3 linked regions of the Homo sapiens genome follow. Changing the gene in region 3 together with the main gene of any one other region gives a genetic interaction. Each region holds a gene or a part of one and is shown on either strand. Other genes may lie near its edges.

What was found.
Region 1: changes in LEO1 (region 3) and NAMPT together harm fitness more than expected from each alone (negative genetic interaction), as found in Homo sapiens cells (one large-scale study listed by BioGRID).
Region 2: changes in LEO1 (region 3) and DDX46 together harm fitness more than expected from each alone (negative genetic interaction), as found in Homo sapiens cells (one large-scale study listed by BioGRID).

The regions. Positions count from the first base shown.
Region 1 is NC_000007.14:106,250,871-106,254,120, reverse strand, and holds part of NAMPT (nicotinamide phosphoribosyltransferase precursor), read left to right. Parts: intron 1-969; coding exon 970-1,104; intron 1,105-2,927; coding exon 2,928-3,038; 3' UTR 3,039-3,250.
Region 2 is NC_000005.10:134,782,707-134,786,363, reverse strand, and holds part of DDX46 (probable ATP-dependent RNA helicase DDX46), read right to left. Parts: intron 3,420-3,657; coding exon 3,299-3,419; intron 1,999-3,298; coding exon 1,823-1,998; intron 900-1,822; coding exon 778-899; intron 1-777. UniProt on the Homo sapiens protein: Component of the 17S U2 SnRNP complex of the spliceosome, a large ribonucleoprotein complex that removes introns from transcribed pre-mRNAs.
Region 3 is NC_000015.10:51,961,754-51,965,410, forward strand, and holds part of LEO1 (RNA polymerase-associated protein LEO1), read right to left. Parts: intron 741-3,657; coding exon 636-740; intron 1-635. UniProt on the Homo sapiens protein: Component of the PAF1 complex (PAF1C) which has multiple functions during transcription by RNA polymerase II and is implicated in regulation of development and maintenance of embryonic stem cell pluripotency.

The sequences.
Region 1 (3,250 bases), on a different chromosome or scaffold from region 3:
ACAGGTCAGTCATTTCCCACTGCCGTTTTTACCTTTAGATCAAAAAGTAATATTTGAGTAGGAATGTCAGCTTACCTAGCCATCATATATTAAAGACAAGCAAGTATATAATCACTGACCAAACTGTTACAGGAAGGTAGAATATGAGGTTTGGATTGTTATACCACAGTCATGTTCTAGTAGCCATAGAACAGCTAGGCAAGTGAACAACAACCCCCCTTGCTTCTTTGTAACGTCTTGAGAGCTGGAGATTCTATAGAGCAAGGGACAGAGGCAGGAGGATGCTAAGAATTAAGAACACCTGAGTTGATTCCCTGCTTCACTCTTTGATCTTTCTTTGGAAAGTTCTGGGATTGACTCATTTGTTGCTGCTTGTTCCACTGCCACTTGTTTCTGTTTCTTTGCTGCCTACCTTTCTGATGTAGAAACACTCTGCTGTCTTCAGGTTCTCTAAGACTTTTGCTTCTGACAATAACAAGGCAAAAGTAAAAAGTACCAAAAGAGGGATACGTTATGAAATAGGAAAGCCTTTACCTTAGTAATACTCTTGTTCCCTCTCCAAAGATTGTGTGTGTGGTTTTGGCGTAGTTGGTATAGTTGGGCTTTTCTTCAACAGCATGTACATGCTGTGCTTACTGTCAGTTTAAAGGCAGTTTGTAATATAAAGAGATACCTTAAGGGTCACATGTTAGAATGCTCACAGACTTCCTACAAATGGAGTATTAGGTGTTCTTCAGTGGCAAAAAGGATATCCAAGATGTCATACTTTTTCTTTATTACAAACGACTATCCTTCAAAACAGGCTAAAGTGTTATGTTTCTGAAAGCCAGATGTGGATTGGTTCAGTTATACCTATTAAGTGCTTAAAACTTAAATGTAAATTATGTATGTGCTTTTTTGTAAGGGAGTGTTTAGACATTTCTGATGATTAGTCTTCTACTTGTCTAACTTTCTTAATTTGGATTTCAGATTAACGTCTTCAAGGACCCAGTTGCTGATCCCAACAAAAGGTCCAAAAAGGGCCGATTATCTTTACATAGGACGCCAGCAGGGAATTTTGTTACACTGGAGGAAGGAAAAGGAGACCTTGAGGAATATGGTCAGGTATGTATCTATGCTGATTGGTTTTTTTAAGCAATAGTAGGTTGGCTCACCAAATTAATAAGAAAGGAGGTTTTTATGTTATTGTTTTTGTGGAAGACAAAGTATTATATTTTATTATAAAATGTCCAATTGCTGACCTGGCCTACCAAAATAAGATACAAAACAAGTGTCTACGTCATAAACACGGGGCCTGTGTATACATAGGGAGAAATATTACGTAAGTATAGTGATTGACAGCAAGTTTGTATACACTTTATCCAAAAGCAAACTATGTTACTTTAATATAAAATGTGAAAACAAGGTGACTTGATTTGGATTACATAATAAATGGTGAAACCTTGATTTAACCAAGTTTTCTGATTCAAATCAACCAAACTAGAAAAATTTACAGTACACTAAAGTAGTTCATATGATCTAATGGTCTTTAGCATACAAAAGTACATTTATATTTGTGAACTCAAGTTAAAAAATTTTTGGTTTTTAAGCCACTTGATCAAAAAAAACTTTAGACAGAACTATTCATGAATATTCATATTATTAGAAAAAAGTACACTAAACATGAGTGCACTATTACTTCCTATTTTGATTCTTTATACTACATCACAATTACTGCTTATAACATGTTACTTTTACATTTATTAAGGTTTTGAGCCAGAATTGAAATAACTTTGTTACCGTTAATGAAAAAATATGTTTGTAAATCAAACTTTTAGAATTAGATCCCTTTATATAGCCTGTTAGGCAATTATTTGAGTAAGCTTTGTGTAACTCTTGTACCTACTAAGATTTTGGCAGATTTAGTTTATCCTAGATGAGCTAAAGTCACTTCAAACTAAAAGTAAAAATCTAAGTGTGATTTTTAAAAGACACTGATTTAAGAGTATGTGAATGATAGTAGAATAAACTAGAAAATAATTCATAATCATCTAGGCAATTTGATTTAAGAGTAGGAACTAGTATTCCCTTAAATTTAAATTTGTGAAAGAAAATGCTACAGCTAAAGCACTGTGGTTTGAAGCAACACAATGACAGAAATATTAGATAATGTCATATGCACCTCAATCTTCAGACTAGGTGGAAAATTGAGATTACTTCTGTGGATTTTTCAGAGAGAAACCAGAAGCAGGTAACTCCTTAGTGAGACAGGAGTGGCTCTACCAGACCCAAAGGGAATTTAATTTCTTCAATCTGTCTTTGCTACTCTTGTATGGATGAAGTGGATTACCTTTGTCATTGACTTTTGGAGTATAAACAGAATCTTTAACCCAGTCACTGTGTGTTAGTCAAGAATGCAATACTTGTTTTTCTTTGTTTCTGTTTTGGGATTGGCTTTTGGCTTTTTGTGGGTTTTCTAGACCCAAATTTAGCACTAGCAAATTTCTTAAACTTCCATTTGATAAGTTTAATCACTGTTGAGTTTGTTGGCCAGGAACAAGGCAGGGTTTACCAGGCTTTTTTGCTGCACACTCACAATGATTACAGTTCTCCCTAGGCACCCAGGCATCTTCCTTCAGCCTGAGGAAAAAAAAGATTGGTCAGCTAGGTTTCTTGGTTTTCCTTTAAGAAAACTGGTTTAAGAATGTAGTATTAAGGTCATTCCTTTTCATAGAAGTTAAATATTTCTACATACCAGGCAACTCAGTGATTGGCCATTTTAGATAGTACCTTGTTCCACTAGCATTTTTTATGCATCAAATCATCTCACAATTTGAACACCATTGGCATCTCTGTATTTGACTGGTTGGTTAGTCTAATTCATCAAACCAGGATTCAGGTATTTTGCTTAATAATGTAATATAATCATGAAATTTCCATTTATGCAGGATCTTCTCCATACTGTCTTCAAGAATGGCAAGGTGACAAAAAGCTATTCATTTGATGAAATAAGAAAAAATGCACAGCTGAATATTGAACTGGAAGCAGCACATCATTAGGCTTTATGACTGGGTGTGTGTTGTGTGTATGTAATACATAATGTTTATTGTACAGATGTGTGGGGTTTGTGTTTTATGATACATTACAGCCAAATTATTTGTTGGTTTATGGACATACTGCCCTTTCATTTTTTTTCTTTTCCAGTGTTTAGGTGATCTCAAATTAGGAAATGCATTTAACCATGTAAAAGATGAGTGCTAAAGTAAGCTTT
Region 2 (3,657 bases), on a different chromosome or scaffold from region 3:
TGTAAAAAGATTCAAAAATTCTAATCTAGCATTAACATAGTATGTTCTTTTTTGCCACAACTATATTGGGTCATAATTAACAAAAATTATATATATTTAAGGTGTACAACATGTTTGATATACATATACACTCTGAAATGATGAACACAATCAAGCTAACATATCACCTCATATAGTTACCAATATTTTCTTTTGTGGTAAGAACATGTAAGATTGGTCAGGCACGGTGGCTCACACCTGTAATCCCAACACTTTGGGAGGCCGAGGCAGGAGGATCACCTGAGGTCAGGTGTTCAAGACCAATCTGGCCAATATGGTGAAACCCCGTCTCTACTAAAAATACAAAAATTAGCCAGGCGTGGTGGCAGGCACCTGTAGTCCCAGCAACTTGGGAGGCTGAGGTAGGAGAATCGCTTGAACCAGGGAGGCAGAGGTTGCAGTGAGCCGAGATCGCGCCACTGTACTCCAGCCTGTGTGACAGAGCGAGACTCCATCTCAAAAAAGAAAAAAAAAAAACATGATGTGAGATCTACTGGCTTAGCGAATTTTCAGCACACAATATAACATTAACTAGTCACCATGCTGTACATTACATCTCCAAAGGTATTCATCCTACATAAAATAACTAATTCTTACTATTATTTTTATACTTCATTTTTTAAATGATTTTAGAAGCAATCACTATTCAAAAAACTAAAAGTAAAAGTCACTTTTACTTTATTGAATCATCCAACTTGAGAAAAGAATGGAAAACATGAATGTTTCTTATATAACTACCTGCTCACTGATTCCTGTTCCTCCGTAAACACAGACCACTCTAAGTCCCAAAGTCTTGGAAAACTTCTTACACTCTTTAGTAATCTGTAAAGCCAGTTCTCGAGTTGGAGTCATGATGACAGCTGGAAAGATAAATACATCAGTAGCCTAACCACCAAAATTCTTAAGGCTGTGCTTTATAGTGTTCAATTTAACCTTTACAATAAAGTTCAGATTGTTTCACCTAATTTTTGTTTTGTTATGCATCCCTGAAAACTATTTCAAAAGTTGTATAACAGCAGAGGTTGTGGGGAAGGATAAATATAAGCAGATTTTTAAAAACATGCTAAAAGAAGATAAATGACAGTTAAATGCCTCATCCAACCCTCAGGAAAATACTTGGTTCAAAAGAATGCAAACAGTTTTCTAATGCAAATCACAGAACAAAGAAAATCAAGTGACTCACTGTGCCACAGAAGCCATACTGCTGCTTCCAGAAACAACCTTGGTCTGAGGGGCACAGACAGAGGAGAGATATACTATGCCCCGTGTTCCTAAGAGAGAAGCTGAACAACTTTCCAAAACCCTACTCAACTTTCCAAGAGTTATCTCTGCCAAGATGAATCAAGAAACCAGAATCTAAACAAGTAATCTTGAATGAAATGCTGGCATTATAGCCTGTTAAGGCCAAAAACTACCTAGGAAAATATGTTTCCCTAGGATATCTTCCATGTCGCTTTTATATATCCACTGATACTGGGCTAACAAACCTCAATATAAATAAACAGATAGATGCACGAGGAGTCTACCTGCCAAGTCAGAGTTTAAAAACTGAGCTGTGCCAGGAGAGGCTGTTTTTGTACTTCTGAGATGTCACTCCAGAGCTCTGAAGATTCTCACTCCACCTGCTGGTAAGGGGAAATCAGCCCCAAAGTGCCAAATTGATAAAGAAAATGTACATAAAGACAACTTCATTGTCATAATTAAGAACATTATAAACTATAAGGTCTTTCTGTTTGACAACAAAGCTGTTATTTGAAAAATAGTTTAATGAAAAGAATTGTACCTATTGGCCCCTCTCCTTCCTCTAATGACCTCTGATCCATGATGTGTCTAAACATGGGCAACAGAAAAGCAATGGTCTTTCCACTTCCTGTTTTGGCAATGCCAATCAAATCTCGTCCAGACATTATAGCAGGAATAGCTTGGGTTTGGATGGGCGTGGGCTTTTCATAGCCATGCCTTAAAAAGAAAACCAAAGGAAGAAAAGGTAAGAATTGAGATTGCTGGGCCCCAGACAGGTCCTATGTGTTCCCATAAAAATGAACTTCCAAAAGGTGGTATATATCATACAATAAAATACTATTTGGCAATAAAAAGGAATGAAGTACTAACACATTCTACAATATGGACTAATCTTTACAACATTATGTAAAGTGAAAAAGATCAGGCAGTAAAGACTATATATTGTTTGATCCCATTTACATGAAATGTTAGGAATAGCCAAATCTATTCTAGAGACAAAAAATAGATTAATGGTTGCCCAGGGGTGGGGAGAGGGGAGAAGACTGACTACTAATGGACAAAAGTTTCTTTTTGGGATAATGAAAAATTTAAAAATTAGGCAGGGCGCAGTGGTTCATGACTGAAATCCCAGCATTCTGGGAGGCTGAGATGGGAGAATCATTTGGGGCCAGGAGTTGGAGACCAGCCTGGTCAACATAGCGACACCCCATCTCTTAAAAAAAAAAAAAAAAAAGGCCGGCCTTGGTGGCTCACGCCTGTAATCCCAGTACTTTCAGAGGCCGCAGCGGGTGGATCATCTGAGGTAGAGAGTTCGAGACCACCCTCACCAACATGGAGAAACCCTGTCTCTACTAAAAATACAAAATTAGCCAGGCATGGTGGCACATGCCTGTAATCCCACCTACTTGGGAGGCTGAGGCAAAAGTATCACTTGAACCCAAGAGGCGGAGGTTGCAGTGAGCCAAGATCGAGCCACAGCACTCCAGCCTGGGCAACGAGAGTGAAACTCCGTCTCAAAAAAAAAAAAAAAAGGCCGGGCATGGAGGCTCACGCCTGTCATCCCAGCACTTTGGGAGGCTGAGGCGGGCGGATCACCTGAGGTCAGGAGTTCAACGCCAGCCTGACCAACATGGTGAAACCCTGTCTCTACTAAAAATAAAAATAACCAGCTATGGTGGCACACACCTATAGTTTCAGCTACTCGGAAGGCTGAGGCAGGAGAACTGCTTGAGCCCGGGAGGCCGAGGTCACAGTGAGCGCAGTGAGATTGCACCACTGCACTCCACCCTGGGCAACAGAGCAAGACTCTGTCTCAAAAAACAAAACAAAACAAAACAAAAAAAAACCAGTTGTATAATTTAAAGGGTAAATTTTGATATATAAATTATCTCAATGAAAGTTTTTTAAAACGTAAGGGTTTTTTTAGAGTAAAAATGTAACTCAGGGAGACACTGGTGTGGAAGGACTATTTTGAGCAGCAAGACACGGAAAACATAAACAACCACCAACCACTTACTTCTTGAGGGAATTTAAGATCTTCATGGAAATTCCACACTGGACCCAGGATTTAATTGGTTTGGGGCAACCTTTTCCTTTAACTGTAATGCCCTCCATTTCCAATCGAAACACATTTACCTCTACAAAACAAAACCCAGATTAAAAGTTCTTAAATATTGTTCTATTGGTGTCTTCTACTTTTCAATTAGGCATAAGATTAACAAACTTTAACTCTTATGCCAGACCCAGCGGCTCACACCTGTAATCCTAGCAACTAGCACTTTGGGAGACAGACGCAGGCAGATCACTTGAACCCAGGAGTTGAAGACCAACCTGGGCAACATGGTGAAACCCTGTCTCAACAAAAAGTACAAAAAT
Region 3 (3,657 bases):
CTAAGTCAAGAACTTAGGAACAAAACACCGAGACTGTCATTATTCAAAGTGAAGAATGGACATTGTAACCTCCATCCCAATAAGAAGGTCAGCCCCCTAATAATGAATTCACTCTAACTATAAACAGACTGGGCGCAGTGATTCACGCCTGTAATCCCAGCACTTCGGGAGGCTGAGGTGGGTGGAACACTTGAGATCAGGAGTTCGAGACCAACCTGGCCAACATAGTGAAACCCCACCTCTACTAAAAATACAAAAAATTTAGCCAGGCATGGTGGTACGTTCCTGTAATTCCAGCTACCAGGAGGCTGAGGGAGGAGAATTGCTTGAACCCAGGAGGCAGCAGTTGCAATAAGCTGAGCTTGCACCACTGCACTCCAGCGTGGGTGACAGAGCAAGACTCTGTCTCTTAAAAAAAAAAAAAAAAACTACAAAGAGGCAGGTTCTTCTTCAACTAATTAAGCATGAGCAGCTTCTCATAGCTATATAACTTCTCTGAGTACACTGAGCGTATCCACACTCTTATTCTGTGGGTCTGGCGATCTGGGGTAAACACACTCAGGGTTAGAAATGCACTACAGTTAAATACAGAAAGAGGTATGGAAATATACATATATATATAATAATAGGGATACCTTTTGGCACCTCAGTGTCACTATCCGCTTCTGAATCAGATGCAATCGCATTCTTGCGTTTCATTCGTAAAACTTCATCTTCACTATCACTGCCTCTTGCAGATTCTATAAGGGTAGAATTAGAAGTTCTGCATAATCAGTCGCATTAGTTGAATTTTGTGTTTTAAAAGCAATATTGGAGATAAACAAATTGTGATACAATGGACTACTACTCAGCAATAAAGAGGAATGAACTGCTGATACATGTAACCAATTGGATGAATCAAAAATGCTATATGCCAAGTTAAAGAGGCCAATCTGAAAGACTACATACTTACTGTATAACTCTATTTATATGACATTTCCAAAAAACCAAAAGTTTAGTGACAGAAAAGACCAGTAGGTGCCAGGGTTTAGGGGTAGCAGAAAGATACGACTCAAAAGGGATAGCATAAGGGAGTTTTTCAGTGTGACAGCGATTCTGCATCCTGAGTGTGGTGGTGGTTAGACAAATCTATAGATATGTTAACATGAATAGAGCTGTACATGCAGAACATGCCCCCCCCCCAAAAAATTAACTCTAGTGTGTGTTAATTTAAAAAACAGAATTCTTAAAATAAATACTGGTGCCAGTTGTGGTGGCTCATGCCTGTAATCCCAGCACTTTGAGAGGACGAGGTGGGTGGATCACTTGAGGTCAGGAATTCAAGACCAGCCTGGCCAACATGGTGAAACCCATCTCTACTACAAATACAAAAATTAGCCGGGTGTGGTAGCGTGCACCTGTAGTCCCAGCTACTTAGGAGGCTGAGGCAAGAGAATCATTTGAACCTGGGAGACTGATGGTGCAGTGAGCCAAGATCGCACCACTGCACTCCAGCCTGGGTGACAGAGCGAGACTGTCTCAAATAAATAAATATACTGGCTTTGCAAGTACAAAAACTTGGTAGAAATGAGAAAAGTAGCACTAAAACTTATCAAATTTACATAAGACAAATTTCAGGGAAAAAAAGGTAAAAAGATTAAAAAGGAACTGACAAATATATCATTATTTCTAGAAGGGCCAATTATTTACGTAAAAATGTCACAAAAATCAACAGAACCACTGTTGAACTAGTAAGAGATAAGCAGAATGACCAGCTACAAGGTTCCCTACTATGACCCTGCCCTTGACTTGGTCTTCTAGTATTTGGGATGTAGTACATGAGCCTTAAAGATTCTTTCTGGTAACAGTAAAAACAGCCCTACTTTCGGCCAGGCATGGTGGCTCTTGCCTGTAATCCCAGCACTTTGGGAGGCCAAGGTGGGCAGATCACCTGAGATCAGGAGTTCGAGACCGGCCAGGCCAACATGGGGAAACTTCCTCTCTACTACAAATACAAAAATTAGCTGGGTTTGGTGGTGCACACCTTTAATCCCAGCTACTCAGGAAGCTGAGGCAGAAGAATTGCTTGAACCCAGGAGGTGGAGATTGCAGTGAGCCAAGATGGTGCCACTGCACTCCAGCCTGGATGACAGAGACTCTGTCTCAAAAAAAAAAAAAAAAAAAAAATGAGTGGCCGGGCGCAGTGGCTCACGCCTGTAATCCCAGCACTTTGGGAGGCCGAAGCAGGCGGATCACGAGGTCAGGAGATCGAGACCATCCTGGCTAACACGGTGAAACCCTGTCTCTACTAAAAATACAAAAAATTAGCCGGGCGTGGTGGCGGGTGCCTGTAGTCCCAGCTACTCGGGAGGCTGAGGCAGGAGAATGGCGTGAACCCAGGAGGCGGAGCTTGCAGTGAGCTGAGATCATGCCACTACACTCCAGCCTGGGAGACAGAGCGAGACTCCGTCTCAAAAAAAAAAAAAGGATGAGTTCATGTCCTTTGCAGGGACATGAGGGACATGGATGAAGCTGGAAACCATCATTCTCAGCAAACTATCACAAGGACAGAAAACCAAACACCGCATGTTCTCACTCATAGGTGGGAACTGAGTAATGAAAACAGTTGGACACAGGGCAGGGAACATCACACACCGGGGCCTGTCATGGGGTGAGGGGCAGGGGGAGGGATAGCATTAGGAGAAATGCCTAATGTAAATGACGAGTTGATGGGTGCAGCACACCAACATGGCACATGTATACCTATGTAACAAACCTGCACGTTGTGCACATGTACCCTAGAACTTAAAGTGTTAAAAAAAAAAAAAAAACCTCTACTCTGAATTAGTTATTGAAAACTTACTGCAGTCCCATAGTCTACACAGATCTATATTCATCTCTGGAAATATGCTGCCCTCCTCTTCTAATAACACCAAGATGTGGTTTCTGAATCCTGTCCTGTGAGGTGTGTGTTAGATGCCCTCATATTTAAGCTAAGAAGATAGGATCAAAATATAATTAATATAATCAATCACCTATGGAAATGAAGCAATCCAGGTATTTCAGGAAGACTTCAACTTAATTAAGGTAACTTTTATATAATACAAAGAAATATGATCTCTAATTTTTTGTACATTCTATATGAAGAATGTGTTAACTTGAGCAGAATAGTCTAAATGGCAATGATAAAAGCAGGTCCAGGAACCAAAGTTCAGGTGTATGCCTCCTGTAGTCTTTAGGGAATGAGTGCTGTAACCCAAGCTCGTCTCTGTAGGGTGAGGATACACCCATCAATCTGTCTTGGCTCAGTAACACTGTCCATTGAGATCACCCAGCCATGTTTGCACTTTCTACATATTATACTCCCTGGGCAACCTCCTGATTATTATAATTTGCCATCCACGCTAGATTTGCCCCCGGGGAAACATATGGGGTGATAAGGGAGAAATAACTGATCCTCTTGAAACAATTTTGCAATTCAATTTTATACATTAATATCTTGTAAATTTGACTAGTTTGAGTAAACTCCTTAGAGCTTGACCATCTCTGGATGATCAAATTTTGGATCTCAAAAAGCTGAGCTGCAGCAATGGTGCCCACATCTCAGTACAGCTGCTCTGTGGGGACACTTCAATGGTATGGTTTTTTTCCCCAGGCTAATCTATTCTCTCACATGAG